Regions from separate parts of the Homo sapiens genome. Here region 1 is linked to region 2. The links come from fine-mapping of genetic effects on gene expression. Tissue or cell type: whole blood. Region 2 holds a variant in brackets; the other region holds the start of a gene. All regions are shown on one strand. Distances are from middle to middle.

Evidence for each region. PIP is the estimated chance that this variant, and not a neighbour inherited with it, causes the effect.
Region 1: BMP2 starts here. The variant in region 2 is fine-mapped to the expression of BMP2 in whole blood (TOPMed, PIP 0.99).

The regions. Positions count from the first base shown.
Region 1 is chr20:6,762,919-6,771,028 of GRCh38, forward strand. BMP2 (bone morphogenetic protein 2) reads left to right here and starts at 4,768. Exons shown (of 3, transcript NM_001200.4): 1 at 4,768-5,957; 2 at 7,202-7,554. The coding sequence starts at 7,209. It overlaps LOC105372517 (a long non-coding RNA gene), which reads right to left and starts at 4,566. Exons shown (of 4, transcript XR_937229.2): 1 at 4,403-4,566; 2 at 3,482-3,887; 3 at 2,934-3,090; 4 at 2,675-2,751. RefSeq lists promoters at 944-5,822, 4,632-5,273, 4,663-5,822, cis regulatory regions at 3,736-4,526, 4,533-4,632, 5,273-5,447 and silencers at 4,712-4,761, 4,852-4,901.
Region 2 is chr20:6,881,960-6,890,069 of GRCh38, forward strand. No RefSeq gene overlaps it. Among named protein-coding and RNA genes, the nearest start is that of BMP2, 120 kb to the left of the region's middle. The variant T/C (reference allele first, on the strand shown) is at 3,930.

The sequences.
Region 1 (8,110 bases), 120 kb before region 2:
ACATGTTGCATTTCTTCCATTGAATTCTAAGTAAATTATGTGCAGAGATTATGTACTTTTGTATTAACTGGAGCCCAATAACATAGTGCCGTGGGCTTTGTAGTTGCTCAATAAATATTTGTAGACTGTATGTAAAAGGAAATACTATAGTTGACTCTTCACAGTCTATTTAACAGAAAGTCAAAACATTTTAATATCATTGACAAGGTATGCAAATGTATTAGTATATGATAATTAAATAATATGTAGTGGATATTTAAAACAATCGTACTTGGCCAATTTGGCCTGGCTTAGGCTTTGCATATAAATTACCCCACTCCACTCATCCTTCCTATTATGTCTAATCAAATGCAAAATAGGTAAACATTTGAATGACTAAATGCTGCTCTTTTGCTGTGGCTCCCGGGGTTCCCATGAAAGAATTTCATGGAGGTAAAGTAATCAGAACCGGTATTGGGTGTTGCACTAGTAACAAAGTGTTACTCATGCTAAAAAGCCAACAGGCTTCTCAGGGGAGTCTTATTTTGAAGACTATAATCATTTTCCAGAAGCATGTGCTCATTCAACCCATATTTTTGAAATCTACCAAGTGCAAAAGAAAATCACATAAGATAAACTCACATCTTTCGAGAACCAGAACCGATGGCCTTAATTTGCATGTATATAGTAATACAAATTTGCAACCTTTTGTTGTCTTCACACATATCTTCTCATTTATTCTTCACAACCTCCATGAGAAGTCAACTGTTAGTCTCTATAGAGTATTCATGAGGGAGCCGAGGCTATGAGAATTTGTTACTGCCATAGATCAGAGGTCCCCAACCCCCGGGCCATGAATAGTACTTGTCCATGGCCTGTTAGGAACCCCCAGGGGCAGGTGAGGGAGCATTACTGCCTGAGCTCTGCCTCCTGTCAGATCAGCAGCAGCATTAGATTCTCATAGGAGCTCAAACCCTACTGTGAACTGCATGTATGAGGGATCTAGGTTGCATGCTCCTTATGAGAACCTAACTAATGCCTGACGATCTGACGTGGAACCGTTTCATCCTGAAACCATCACCCCCAACCTGGTCTGTAGAAAAATTTTCCTCCACAAAACTGGTCCCTGGTGCCAAAATGGTTGGGGACCTCTGCTTTAGATTGACTGACCCAACTGGTGGCCTTTCTGATGAAATATCCACTGTTTGGCAATATAATAAAAGCTGGGAGAAGAGAAGGAGAAGGAGGAGAAAGAGGAGGAGAAGAAAGGCATCCAAAGTCCTATTTCTTAAAACCAGGCCATATTGCAGACAGAAGGCCAAAGAATACATTTGAAGATACATAGAGTGAGTAGCAATCAGAAACTAAGTTCACACATGTTATCCATTTGACCTTCATCATGTCAGTCTGAAGCAAGCAAACATATATTTATTTACCCCAATTAACAGATGAAATGACCATTTTAAAGTCAGTCATCCATGACAGAACCAGGAATTAGAACCCAGGTCACCCAACTACATCTTAGAGTGTTATCAACATAGTTTACAGACATAACTTAAGGTGTACATCTTAAACTGTGTGACAGTCTAATCAATGCACAAAATTCATTCTTTTTAATTTTTAAGAAGATGTAGTTGGTACTTGCTGAAAGCAGTGATCCTGATTTGGCCAACTTGGCCTAGTTTCTGATATAAATCACTCCACCTCTCCCATCCTTTCTACCATGTCTAATCAAACACCAAAAAGGAAAACATTTGATTGACTAAATGCTTCTCTTTTGCCTTGGCTCCAAGTTCCTGTAAAAAAAACTTCATCCAGGTAAAGTAAGTAGGGATGGTTATGGGTGTCACCCTTGTAACAAAGCGATATGTATGCTAAAAAGCAAAGAGGGTTTCTCAGGGCAGTTGCCACAGGTTTCCATGGAATGACAATTACAAGGTAGATGGATCACGTAATGCCTGCTGTGAACTTTACAATACATGGGGATCACTATTTTAATGTTGATTTGCATAATGTTTGGCCTAGCAAGAACAATACTGAATGCTAATAGCTACAGAATGCAATAAAATGGAATATCATGTGAGCTGAAGTGCTAAAATTGCTAAAGTATGACTGTAAGCAGTTAATTTCATCCCGAGTCTTGTCCACACACAATCAAATGCAAATTTCCACTATCTCCTGAGAAACTGCCAAGAGATGACTGAAATGGAATAGCAACAACCTCCTTTATGTGGAATCATTATCTGGTCATCTTTGCTTTTTTACATAACTTGTCTGTACCCTCTGATGCATTTGAATTTGCAACTTCTACTATCCCTATCTTAAACAACTCCCCACTCCCACCTCTGCCCCTTCCACATTTGCTGGCAGATGCACTAAGTCTGATAAACTCAGCAAGACTGAATCTCACCCTCTGAACTGAAAAACTTTGAATGGACCTTTGAAAACGGTAGAATTGACAATGGTTAGCTGCAAGTGATATTTTCAAGGCAAACAGACACTCTCCCAAAGTATTAAATAACCCAGCATTCTAAGTTGCAGGTGGAAGGTAGCCATTAGTGAAGAGAGAGAAAAAAAAAAGAAATAGCTCGTCTGTATTTAGATTTATCATTTCTGACTATTGCTCTTCCCTGGAAAACGGGTAGGTACAGTCATCCTGTACTTCGATCCCAAATCAGTCTCTGGAGACTACTTATTTATTTATTTATTTATTTATGGACTTCTTTCTTTCAAGCGTTCGAACTCATTTCCACCACAAGAGGGCAGCCATCTCTAAAAAAAAAAAAATAGGGCCAAAATTTATGTAAGTTGTGCTTGGAACAAGCATTCAGTAGTTCCTCAGAAATCATACACCCTACATAAAAGAGATTCTGCAATGGGCAGCACTAACATGAAACAGTGTTCAGAAGTACCCATTTTCCCTCAGATTCTAAACTGACAAGGTTTCCACTTACCAGGTTATGAAGTTCTAAAGCTGCAAGACATCCTTGAGGTCATCACAGGATATTTATTTATTTTTTCTTCGGGTGCATCCAATAGTTATCAACTTTTCCTCCTCTTTAAAAGCTACTTAAATCTCATTGAAGTTTTGTTTTGTTTTGTTTTTGAAATCTAAGTAATGAGAGAAACAATTGTTAACTTCTCAATTAAACTTGATAGGAAAGGAAATAATTTCAGAAGCCCTGTGTCCATGAGTAGGATATGTTTTATTGCCTCCTTGTTTGCGGTGCAATGACTCTGAGTGACAATCAACTTCTATAGCACCTTTTTTTTTTTTTTCAGGAAATAAAGTAGCATGTTCCTGAATAATTCCCCCACCCCCTTTTATTTTCCTGGTAGTCAGGCTTCCTCCAAAATACCTTATTTGACCTTTATACCTTTAGAAACAGCAAGTGCCTAATTCGCCTCTGTGGGTTGCTAATCCGATTTACGTGAGCGGAACCTAGTATTATTTTAGCTCCCCTACCGAAAAAATAATACACATGGATAATAGTTCTATTACCAGCTCCTGCTTCTGACTTTTTTCTCTCTGTTTCGCAGGCCCGATAGCTCTGGGAAAGCAGAACTTGGCCTTTTCCAAAAATTTTCTGCCCTTGGTTTTGGGGATCATTTGGGCAAGCCCGAGGTGCTGTGCATGGGGGCTCCTGGAATCCTGGGAAGGGCAGAAAGCCTTGGCCCCAGACTCATCGTGCAGCAGCTCTGAGCAGTATTTCGGCTGAGGAGTGACTTCAGTGAATATTCAGCTGAGGAGTGACTTGGCCACGTGTCACAGCCCTACTTCTTGGGGGCCTGGTGGAAGAGGGTGGCGTAGAAGGTTCCAAGGTCCCAAACTGGAATTGTCCTGTATGCTTGGTTCACACAGTGCGTTATTTTACCTTCCTCTGAGCTGCTAATCGCCTGCCTCTGAGCTGGGTGAGATAAATATCACAAGGCACAAAGTGATTGTACAATAAAAAAATCAAATCCCTCCCATCCATCCTTCAGTCTGCCACACACGCAGTCTACGTTACACACATGTCACGTAAAGCAGGATGACATCCATGTCACATACATAGACATATTAACCGAAATGTGGCCCTTCGGTTGCATATATTCTCATACATGAATATATTTATAGAAATATATGCACATATTTTTGTATATTGGATATATTTATGTAACTATAAATTTACATGCGTATGGATATGAAAATAAATGCATACACATTTATGTAAAAAAATTTGTACACATGCATTTACATATGTAAATACATACATCTCTATGTATTAATGTTTAAAAACACTCAATTTCCAGCCTGCTGTTTTCTTTTAATTTTCCTCCTATTCCGGGGAAACAGAAGCGTGGATCCCACGTCTATGCTATGCCAAAATACGCTGTAATTGAGGTGTTTTGTTTTGTTTTGTTTTTTGAAATCGTATATTACCGAAAAACTTCAAACTGAAAGTTGAATAACGGGCCCAGCGGGGAAATAAGAGGCCAGACCCTGACCCTGCATTTGTCCTGGATTTCGCCTCCAGAGTCCCCGCGAGGGTCCGGCGCGCCAGCTGATCTCTCCTTTGAGAGCAGGGAGTGGAGGCGCGAGCGCCCCCCTTGGCGGCCGCGCGCCCCCGCCCTCCGCCCCACCCCGCCGCGGCTGCCCGGGCGCGCCGTCCACACCCCTGCGCGCAGCTCCCGCCCGCTCGGGGATCCCCGGCGAGCCGCGCCGCGAAGGGGGAGGTGTTCGGCCGCGGCCGGGAGGGAGCCGGCAGGCGGCGTCCCCTTTAAAAGCCGCGAGCGCCGCGCCACGGCGCCGCCGCCGCCGTCGCCGCCGCCGGAGTCCTCGCCCCGCCGCGCTGCGCCCGGCTCGCGCTGCGCTAGTCGCTCCGCTTCCCACACCCCGCCGGGGACTGGCAGCCGCCGCCGCACATCTGCCGCCACAGCCTCCGCCGGCTACCCGAACGTTCTCGGGGCCAGCGCCGAGTGGATCACCGGGGACCGCGAGGCACCCGCGCGCCGCAGACCCCGCGCGGGCTGGAGCACCCGGCAGAGCGCGCCACAGCGCCGTGGCCTCTGCTGCCCGGGCTGCGCCAGAGCCGCGGACGGGCGCGCAGAGCGCCGGGGACTCCGGAGCCGATCCCTAGCGCCGCGATGCGGAGCACCTACTGCAGGAGATCGGGGGCCTGGGACGCGCTGGCCGAGGTGTGATCGGACCCCAGGCTAGCCACAAAGGGCACTTGGCCCCAGGGCTAGGAGAGCGAGGGGAGAGCACAGCCACCCGCCTCGGCGGCCCGGGACTCGGCTCGACTCGCCGGAGAATGCGCCCGAGGACGACGGGGCGCCAGAGCCGCGGTGCTTTCAACTGGCGAGCGCGAATGGGGGTGCACTGGAGTAAGGCAGAGTGATGCGGGGGGGCAACTCGCCTGGCACCGAGATCGCCGCCGTGCCCTTCCCTGGACCCGGCGTCGCCCAGGATGGCTGCCCCGAGCCATGGGCCGCGGCGGAGCTAGCGCGGAGCGCCCGACCCTCGACCCCCGAGTCCCGGAGCCGGCCCCGCGCGGGGCCACGCGTCCCTCGGGCGCTGGTTCCTAAGGAGGACGACAGCACCAGCTTCTCCTTTCTCCCTTCCCTTCCCTGCCCCGCACTCCTCCCCCTGCTCGCTGTTGTTGTGTGTCAGCACTTGGCTGGGGACTTCTTGAACTTGCAGGGAGAATAACTTGCGCACCCCACTTTGCGCCGGTGCCTTTGCCCCAGCGGAGCCTGCTTCGCCATCTCCGAGCCCCACCGCCCCTCCACTCCTCGGCCTTGCCCGACACTGAGACGCTGTTCCCAGCGTGAAAAGAGAGACTGCGCGGCCGGCACCCGGGAGAAGGAGGAGGCAAAGAAAAGGAACGGACATTCGGTCCTTGCGCCAGGTCCTTTGACCAGAGTTTTTCCATGTGGACGCTCTTTCAATGGACGTGTCCCCGCGTGCTTCTTAGACGGACTGCGGTCTCCTAAAGGTAGAGGACGCGGGCCAGGGCCCGGGGTGGGTGGTGGGTGGGAGGGGGATTTGGGCAGCCACTGCGGTAGAGCCCTTCCTTACGTCCAGGCCAGAAGTAAACAGACCCCTCTCCAGTCCACGTGCAACGGAGCCCTGCAGGGGCTCCCACTTCCAGCTGCCCCGGGCGACCGTAAGCCTCACCCTCCCGGCCCGCACTCTTCCACCCCTCTTTCTTCCCCTCTCCCTGGAATACTTTTGGAGCTGTTAACACTTAGATGAGGTGTTTTATTTATTTATTTATTTATTTTTAATTTTTTTAAAAACTTTTTTGGGTCAAAGAAATCCCTTTGAGAGGGTAGCCCCTGGGTTTCACCCGTTAGCTGAGAACCTGTCCGCTCTGCCATGGTGATCTCCATTCTTCAAGTGTTTCCGGGAGACTTGGTTTCTTTGCTCAGAGCCGTGTCCCATTTAGGAAAGTACTAGGAGTTTGGGGTTCTCCCTACTTGTTTCCAGAAATGCGAGGGGTCAGTACTGAAGGATCACTTGGTACTGTGTTTTTAACAGCTGACACGTGCATTAATAGATATTCACCATTTACGTAATCCCGGGAAGATACATGTGTATCTTGACTGCACTGTGGGGATGCGGGATGGAGCTGCCTTTCGAGACACCCCTGAGGGTAGGGGCCTGGGACACAAGTCATAAGTGGCTTCAGAAGTTGTGGCCTTGAGCTTACAGGGTCTGGAAGCTATAAGGGTGTGTGTGTGTGTGTGTGTGTGTGTGTGTGTGTGTCAGGAAGTTCTATACAGTGCCTCTAAGGAAGTCACATGCACCATTTATGTGTGTTTATATGCCAGACAGCGCTCAGCACTCCGCATTTGGGTTTGTATAGGGGACGCAGGGTGTCAGATCAAGCGGTGGTTTTCCCAGGTTCCCGGCATTGGCTGTCAGCGCTGTGTCACACACAAAAAAGTGACAGTCATTGGCGCTGGTTTGGTTGGGGGGGAGGGCAAATCCCAAATCTGATGTCAGACGAGCTAAGCGTTGGATGGGAGCGATAAATCATCTGGTTCAGGAACTTGGGACCCTTCATTATCCCAAACGTTTGAGCTTCGGTCGGTCTTACCTAGACTCGTGAGTGTGCCAAGCCAGGAGGGCATCCTGGAGGAGGCACGCCAGCCAAATGGGAGACCGGGCCGCGGGGGCGCGAGGGGGGAGGACTGGGCGGGGAACTCGGGTGACTCACGTCGGTCCTGTCCGCAGGTCGACCATGGTGGCCGGGACCCGCTGTCTTCTAGCGTTGCTGCTTCCCCAGGTCCTCCTGGGCGGCGCGGCTGGCCTCGTTCCGGAGCTGGGCCGCAGGAAGTTCGCGGCGGCGTCGTCGGGCCGCCCCTCATCCCAGCCCTCTGACGAGGTCCTGAGCGAGTTCGAGTTGCGGCTGCTCAGCATGTTCGGCCTGAAACAGAGACCCACCCCCAGCAGGGACGCCGTGGTGCCCCCCTACATGCTAGACCTGTATCGCAGGCACTCAGGTCAGCCGGGCTCACCCGCCCCAGACCACCGGTTGGAGAGGGCAGCCAGCCGAGCCAACACTGTGCGCAGCTTCCACCATGAAGGTGAGGCATGGAGCAGGGCGTGGGGGCGGGGAGTCACCCTGCAAAGCCCTCCACCGTGGGCAGACTGCAGCCGTCCCTGTAGAGGCAGCTTGGCCGGGGCACCAGCGGACGTTTCCACTCTTGCTTCTGTACTATCGTTTCTGAATCTGATTTTAACTCACTGCTTGTGTGGTGGGGGAGCCAGGGATTCCCCTTTAGTAACTCCGCACCCTCTTCCTGGCTTGCAGCCAGAAGAGCTACTCCTCCTGGAAGAATTGGAGAGAAATCAAGTGATGGGGAAGATGAGGGCAAAAGGCATGCCTCTAGTCAGCTAAACGTGCAAGAATTCCACAGAGGGAAAAGGAGAAAAAGGGAGGCAGATTGAGATTTCTTTAAGTCTGTTTGGAAGCTTTTGCTCTATAAATCTGCCGCTTAAGCCAGGGTTTTAGGGTAGACAGAGCCAAGGGCAGAGTTTTCAGAGATAGTATTGAAAAATCAAAGCCCAGGGCCCCAAAGTCTTTCTAATTTATAGTTGATCTGGGCCTGGTTTGGAAGATTTTGAATCCCAATCTAATCC
Region 2 (8,110 bases):
TATTCCAAAAGATGGAAGTATTGCAGCGAGTTCTCTTCCTCTCTTACTCCATCTCCTGTTCTTCACTGAGGGAAGTGGGACCATATTGACTTTCCTGCTGAGGCAATACCCCCTAGGATATAAGCAGAACCCTCAGGAGGAACTCAAACTTTTTCCCCTTTGTCTTTGGCCTTCTTTAGAGTAGCCTTTTTTATGTAACAAGATTTCCCTGCAATTTAGACCACCATTGCCTTAAGGAGTGAGGCTAAAAGCTGCTGTTTACTTTTCTAGGCATCAGGGTGAAATAATTCCTGTGTAGTTTAGATTTCCCCAAGCACTACATTATTGTGTTATACTACTGAAAATTAGCCTCTATATCTTTATTATGGTATACGACCTTGCTGGCAGAAAAAACACTGGTGACATTATAGATCCTTAATTATATAGATCCTTAATTAATCCTTATAGATTCTTTATTCATAGTTGAATGAAATGAAAATGGAACTATTTTGCCATCTCTGGTTAGATCTCTTAAATTGGCTTTGGAATTTGTTGGCTTGGCCTCTGAAGAACAAAGAGTTGGGAACGTTTGACCTTGCCTGCGATTAACTTTCTCAGTGCATGGAATTTAGAGCCAGACTGGGCTTCTTTCTGCAGTCCCTTTAGTCAGTTCACAGGCCAGTGGAAGCACTAGTTTTTCAAGGAAAAGCCAACTCTTGACATAGCAAGATCAGAGCTAGAATCCTAGGAAGCATGCTTGGCTGTACACGATCCCTCTAATTTCAAAGCAAAGCAATGTAAGGAGACAGCTTGGTAGTTGTTTTATTTTCTCTAGAGTGGACTTATGTTGTCAGTGGCAGAAATCCATGAACCATGAAGATAAAATAATGCTAACCAGAGTGCTAAGTAAAGAAAACAAAGATGGCTCCACAATTAGTAGCATTATATATGTTAGTGCTAAGTAACAACAGATGTGTCTGCAGGGAGAGAAGCATTCCTTGCAATCCATCAGAAACCAAAGTTCTCTGACACCACAAGCCATTATGATTATCTTAGGCTTGGGGGATGATGGCTGAGTCCACTGGGTTGGCAAAGTAGGGATGCTGTTGAGGGTGTTCCAACCTACCTATGTCATCCTTCCCATGTTGCACACTTGTGCTGAGTTAACAGGGCGATGTGCTCTGTAAAATCCGGTTCTGTAAAGACATGCACTAGCCATGAGTCATTAGCAAGCATGCGAAGCTAATTGGCAAAATACTCATAAAATATTTTGAAGGTGGGTTAATTACAATTCATTACACAGTAAACTGTCCCCAGGCTATTGTTAAAAAGTACAGGAGTTTCAGGGCCCATTATTTTATGATTCATTTTGCCATGTTGTGAAAAACAGACTCTAAATCAAACTACATTTATTATAGGTCAGACCACAAAATCTTTATTGGTTTTTCCAACATTCCACCCTTGTTATATGAATTCATATGGACTGCACATTTCTGTCAATTGGCAAGAAAGCATGAAATAAAATTTATGATATTTTCTTACCTTATCCTCAGTGTAGCCTTAAAAATCACAAGATCTAATTGCTTCCCCTACTTCCCCAAGTTCATGCAAGAAATAAGTATTTCAAAATCAACTCCAAAGTTCTAATGATTGAAAGCAACTAAAGCATAATGAAATCTGTCTTCTAAAGTAAGCATCTTAAAGAAAAACTCAAAGCAACATCCACTTGAAATGTGTTGAAGCTTTTTTCCCGCTCTACCCAGTAAAATATCTAGAATATACTTTACATTTGGAGGATAATTTGAAGTTCATTGGCTCCATAACACAAATCTTGTTCTCCTCATCTCTACCTTTGAAAGCATCTTTCTTTTTTTTTTTTTTTTGAACCAAAGCAAGCCCTCAGCATTTATTTCTTGAAAAAACAAAACAAAACAAAAACCCTCTGGTACAGTTGTGTGCCTCCTGTTATTACCATAGGCAGATTTGGTCAGAATCATGTAAGGCCTCATAAGTAGTCATTCTGTACCATTACATGTAATTGTTTGTTGATTAATGCTTTCAATTATGTTGATTTTCACTATGTGACCCAAACCACCTTGACATAGCCAGCCTGGTATACTCATTACCGGGGATGAGCAAGGAACAAAATGCTAGGTTCACTTCCAGCCTCCAAGAGTTCAGCAGCTCATTTGAACCTTATCTGAACTATCAAAAGTTTTGACTCTGCAGAAACCTGTGTTTGGGGAAGGGGCAGGAATGTGTGGCTCAAGAAAGGCTTTAGGATGAAGTGGGGGTTGTGGGGGGAGATGTTGGAAATTGTGCAAAAACTAGTTTCCTTGTGAGTGATCAGGTACTTCCTGATTCTGGCTGGGCCAGAAATACCACAAAAGCCTTTCTTGAAATTTCTGAGATCTTTGGAAGGTCTTCCTCCAAGCAGTTTGCCAGTTCTGCATGCCTGGGTTTTGGCTAGGGCTGGAGACCAAAGTATGTGCAAGAGGAAACCGTTTAATAGAAAGTTACCTGTATACTTAAGAATTGTCAAAAGAGTTTTACCTCTACTAGAATAAAGCCTGAATGGTTTGATCAGTGTCAATGATCTTAACCACTCCCATTCCTCATAGAAAGATGAAGCTGAAAGATGACATTGGAAATTGCTAATGCAACCCACTTATTTTATAGGGGCAGTCAGGATATCCATAGAAACTATTGACTGGGTCTATACACATGTGGACCAGAGTGAGAACTAAAGAGCCAGTAGAGGAACAAAAGAGGAAGAAAGGGGAGCCAAGCTGTTGAAAAGCTTGAGTTCTGTCTTTACTCTGCCATATTAGTGGTGTGATCTTAGGCAAGTCACTCCAATTCTCTGATCCTCTCTGGATCATTTCAACCACAAAATACTAAATTAAATGTTGTTGTAGGATGAAAGTACTAAGAAAGGGTGATTTGGAAGCCAGACCAAGCTGGATGAAAAGAGTGTCAAATTGGGAAGAGAAAGAATGGCAGCTAGGAAATGCTGGTGAGTTGGAGAGAAAACATTGAGTGGAAACAAAAGAAACTTGATGGGAAATGACTATTTTGCATTGAGTAACAACAGACAATCATAACATAACTTGAGGAGAAAGTAAAGTTGTTTGATGCAATTTTAAAAGATGTCAAAATAGCCTTAAGTTTTATGAAATAAACGAATATTCCAAAGAGGCAAGCATGAAAGGAAGAAGTGTTCAAATATGGGAGACACTAGGTCGGGCGCGGTGGCTCACGCCTGTAATCCCAACACTTTGGGAGGCCGAGGCGGGCAGATCATGAGGTCAGGAGATGGAGACCATCCTGGCCAATATGGTGAAACCCCATCTCTACCAAAAATACAAAAAATTAGCTGGGCGTAGTGGCGGGTGCCTGTAGTCCCAGCTACTCGGGAGGCTGAGGCAGGAGAATGGCGTGAACCCAGGAGGCGGAGTTTGCAGTGAGCAGAGATTGCGCCACTGCACTCCAGCCTGGGCGACAGAGCGAGACTCCGTCTCAAAAAAAAAAAAAAAAAAAAAAAAAAAAGGGAGACACTAGGACAAATTAGTTTCCTAAATCATGCTTCACGGGACTAAGGGCCAGAGCACAGAATACCCCACTACTTCTTCCTCAACCAGAGCAGTTGCCAGTTTATCTCTTCCAAGCAAGCTTTTGTTTAAAGAACGTTTTCTGAAGCTAAGGAAAAAAATTTCTAATTGCTAACCTTGCAAGAAATCAAAAAAACGAGTGGTACTTTAATGAGTTCATTTATTGTGACACCTTTAACAGATACAACTGCAGGCCCTTGAGTGAATGAAGATCTGAAGTGGCTGTTCTGTGTAAAATACACGTGGATTTTGCAATGTGGCCATTCTAATTGGCAGGTAACTTCAACATCAGAAATCTCCAAGCTGGGCTCTCTGAGGAGAGCGGGACTAGCTCTCTTA[T/C]AGGCACCAACATTGCAGTTTGGATTATGGTTTTTTGACGAAGGGTATTCAGTGTGTCAGAGGGAAGGAAGTCCAGGGCCAGGGTCAGCCATCTTTCCTTCTGCCCGCAGTAATGTTGACCTCTCGAGGAATTGATGACAGTGGAAGAGTTCGGGAAAGGAAAGGGTGGTCAGTAGCTCCAGAGTATAAACATTGGGAACAGGTTTGAGAAGAATGCTCAGGAAAATAGAAACAACTAACCAGCAACTAAACAACTAAATTGCCTGACAGGGAATCATGGAAGCTAATCAATGCAAAATTGGTGGTCAGGTAGGGGCGGGCAATGTTGACATTGAAGTCTTGTGGACAGGCTTCCTGTGTTGATTTAGTAACCACACAATGGGTAAGGGAGAGGGGATCTCTGATCATAGCACCACTAATACTAGGATGCTTCTCTTTGACAGGCATAGGGTATTTTTTTTCTTTTAAGCATTAAGTAAGTGAGAAGATCACCTTCCTTTCTTTCTCTTTTGCCCTAAGGGCCTGCCCATTTCCAGCTGCGTAATTACCTCCTTCATAAGCCTTTACTCTGAGGCATGAAGGCTCTAGCCAGTACCCTGACTAACTCCCTGCTGGGGATGCCTCCGCTGAACAGAGCAGAGAGACCTGCTGATTTCAGAGCCAAGCGCAGAAAGCAGCTGGCTCTTAACTTGTTGTTTAAGAGAGCCAAGCAGAACAGAGCTGACGATTGCCTGGCCAGTGGGAGCCTGAGCCAGGCACCTGTCAAATCCTGCTTTGCTGGGTTCTCCTGCACCCTGCTCTGCAGTGCGCTTTTCCGAGACTGGCGGTCCACACCCCACAGGCTTTCTCCCTCTACAGCCAACCAGCTGCCAGCACCCCTGTAAATTCTTTCTCCAGCTAATATTTTGATCCCTAAGCAAGTTTCTCTCTCTTTTACTGGCAGGAAAAAAAAATGTCAAAAAGGGAAAATGATGATGTCTCTATTTTCTTCTGATAGCAGGCTACCAAACACTCCCAGCATATCCATTCTTTCGCTTTGGGAAAGAGGGAAGGCAAAGTGGTCTTGACGGTGTGTGTGCAAGGAGAGACATTCGAATGTGTATTTTTACCTGTCATTTGGGTCTTGAGAAGGTTGAAGTCTGCATATGGAAAAACTGGCCCTTTCTCTTCTCAGTTCTGAGTTTTAGAGTTAGTAAACTATGTAAATTATTTTATTTCTCTGTGCTCTGCATCCAGGCTGATGTCCTGGAGAGAGGGCTTTGAAAAACTGCCCCTGAAGCTATTGGCATTAACTGAAATTGATGTTTCACAGGACTGGGATAAAGAGGGTTATCAGTAGCTCAGGCCTGGCCTGCCTTGGGGACCACTGCCCACTGGATTACCTATTGGCTTAGGGCATAGGCACTGGCTTAGGAATTAAAAGTACTAAGTTCCAGACAAGCTCTGTTTGTGAAATCACTTAGGCCTCCAGCAAGCTTTAGCTTTTCCAAGGTTTTAGTGCTCTCATTTGTAGAATGAGACGGTCAGTTAGACATCACCTCCAAAACGTTACGAGTTTCATGAATCTGGCTGCACTTACTTTGTGGAGCCATCAGCCCTAACCTGAAGCCTGGGAAACAAGTAAACGTGTTTCAAGTTTCTTAAAAGTTGCTTTCTCAAGTTACTTCCTTTCTTCACACAAGAAATGAAAGGGAAACACTGCTGCAAAGAGCCCTGGAAACAGGTCCTGATTTTAGAAGAGAGCCTTGAGATGACAGGGGCATGGATGTCCTGCACATTCCTTCAGCATAACCGCAGAAAGCCTGCATATATTTTTCGTTGTTTGTAATTGCAAACTTTTCTAAAAATCTACCCTTTAGAAATGATTGCCTTTCTCTGAGGATCAGATCACAGTCCAGCCAATTCTCAGAGAAAATTAAACAAAGAATACTGAGCCTGGAATCTGTGATTAGGATGCCTGGCGAAGTAAAAATGACCGTGTACTTTCCCAAGTGGGTCAGCTATGGCCCCAGATATCCAAACAGGATGGCACATGAATCATGCCGGTTTGATGGGCTCTCTCAGGCTGGATTTACAGCTGGATTTAGGACTAAATGTTGGAGGTAAATCTAAAGGAGCAGAAGGGCTGGGGAGGGAATGGGAAATCAAGGGAGTTTCCATCAAAGCTTTTCAGAAGCAGAAATCCATTCTACCTTTGTCGATGACTGTGGTTTGCTAGGATCAAGATCAAAGGAATCACCGTGGGCAGAGCCATGACAAGTATGAGGCTCAGTCTGGTGCAACCTAGCATTAGCCCCTCTCTTAGGCTGCCGTCTAGACTGGAAGTGGGTGCTCATACCAGACCAGGCTGAGTGTGTAGTCAGGGTACTGTTTCATGACGGGGCAAAGGACTTATAAAGCCTATCTTGATCTCCCCAGGGAAGCCCACAGCCAGGGGCAGTGAGGCACAAAGTAGCTATATCCCTGATTATGTCCTTGGGAAAACAGGGGACATGGAATGACCATGAAGCCAGGTGGTTGACAGGGACAAGGAACTGATTTTGGCAAAATCCAACTGGCTTGTTTTGTGTATCTTTCCCTCTCCTCCCTGATTGCTTTAGAAGGCTGCTCTAAAAGTTTACTAAAAAGTTGTTCGTTTGCAGGCCTAAGACACTTGATATTTGAACTAGAAGGTCTTCTTATCCACACTTTACAGACCGAAAAACTGAGGCACAGAGGGGTTAAATTAGGTCACCCAGCCATGGGTGGAGGATCCGGGAATGAATTAGGACAGATTCATTCCACAGCCCATCTCATAACGACTGACTACTCTAAAGGATATTGGTAAATTTGAATCTTATTTACTGGAAAAGCCCCTCTTGTAGAGCTGGTGCATCACAGATACCAAATAGACCTGGTTCTTATTTGTATTCCTTCATTTATAAGACTCACAGTATATCTATTAAGTTACAAAGCTAAAGATTAAAGAATTTGGTGCTGAGAACATGAATGTAAACTCATCATTTGTTGCTAAATGTATTGGGGTCAGTCAACTTGGGTTAGTGACCACAAAGAGGAACTTTTAGGAGGCCCATGGCTAGCTTTAGAAATGCATGGTTTTTGCCTAAAGCAAAGTCATCTTGAACATGTTTTGATATTATCTAATATTCCTTATTGTTTTCATAAACACTTACGGCTCAAAGGAAACCCAAGCTCACCATGCCCAGAAAATCTTCAATCTTCCTCTCCCCGTTGAGGCTCTCCTCCCAGGACTGGAGATAGTAGGACAGGAAGCTAGCACTCTACTTGAAAAATGGAATCTACCTAGTGCTGACTCATTTCCTTGCAAAATGTTGTGTGTGAGCTATTTGATGCCCCCAGAATCTTGGGAGTCCTTTTGGATGAATTTTATAAGCCGTTCCTTGATACAGATACTGCATGCTTAGACGCTACAGGTTGCCAAGATAACTCAACCCCAAAAGACTTAAGGTAAATGAAATCTCCAAGTCCCAAGGATTAGGTATGAGTTTTGGCTGCTTGGGTTTTCTCACACAAATGCCTCATATGGCAGCAGAGCAGGCAGCACCCTCCGCAGAATTGGATTATCTTGATGTTTAAGTTTTGCAAATGGATCATTCTCAACTGACCATGTGAATTGAAGAAGGTTGCTGAACTTTTGCTGGCCTCTAAGCCGTGGGCAAATAGAGTGAATCCTATTGATTAAACCCAAAGCTTCCTCCTGTGGAAAATCCTATTTAAGTAGAAGGATTATTACTATTGCCCATTAAAAAATAATCACTATATTGGGCTGGGTGCGATGGCTCATGCCTGTAATCCCAGCACTTTGGGAGGCTGAGGTGGCGGATCACCTGAGGTTGGGAGTTCCAGACCAGCCTGACCAACATGGAGAAACCCCATCTCCACTAAAAATATAAAATTAGTGGGCATGGTGGTGCATGCTTGTAATCTCAGCTACTCGGGAGGCTGAGGCAGGAGAGTTGCTTGAACCCAGGAGGCGGAGGTTGCGGTGAGCCAAGATGGTGCCATTGCACTCCAGCCTGGGCAACAAGAGTGAAACTCCAACTCAAAAAAAAAAAAAATAATAATAATAATAATCGCTATATTGTACCTTTCTTATTTGAAAGGGAGCCAGAATCTAAACAGTAAAGTGTGGTGAGGGGGTTGTTGTTCACTAGGGTGTC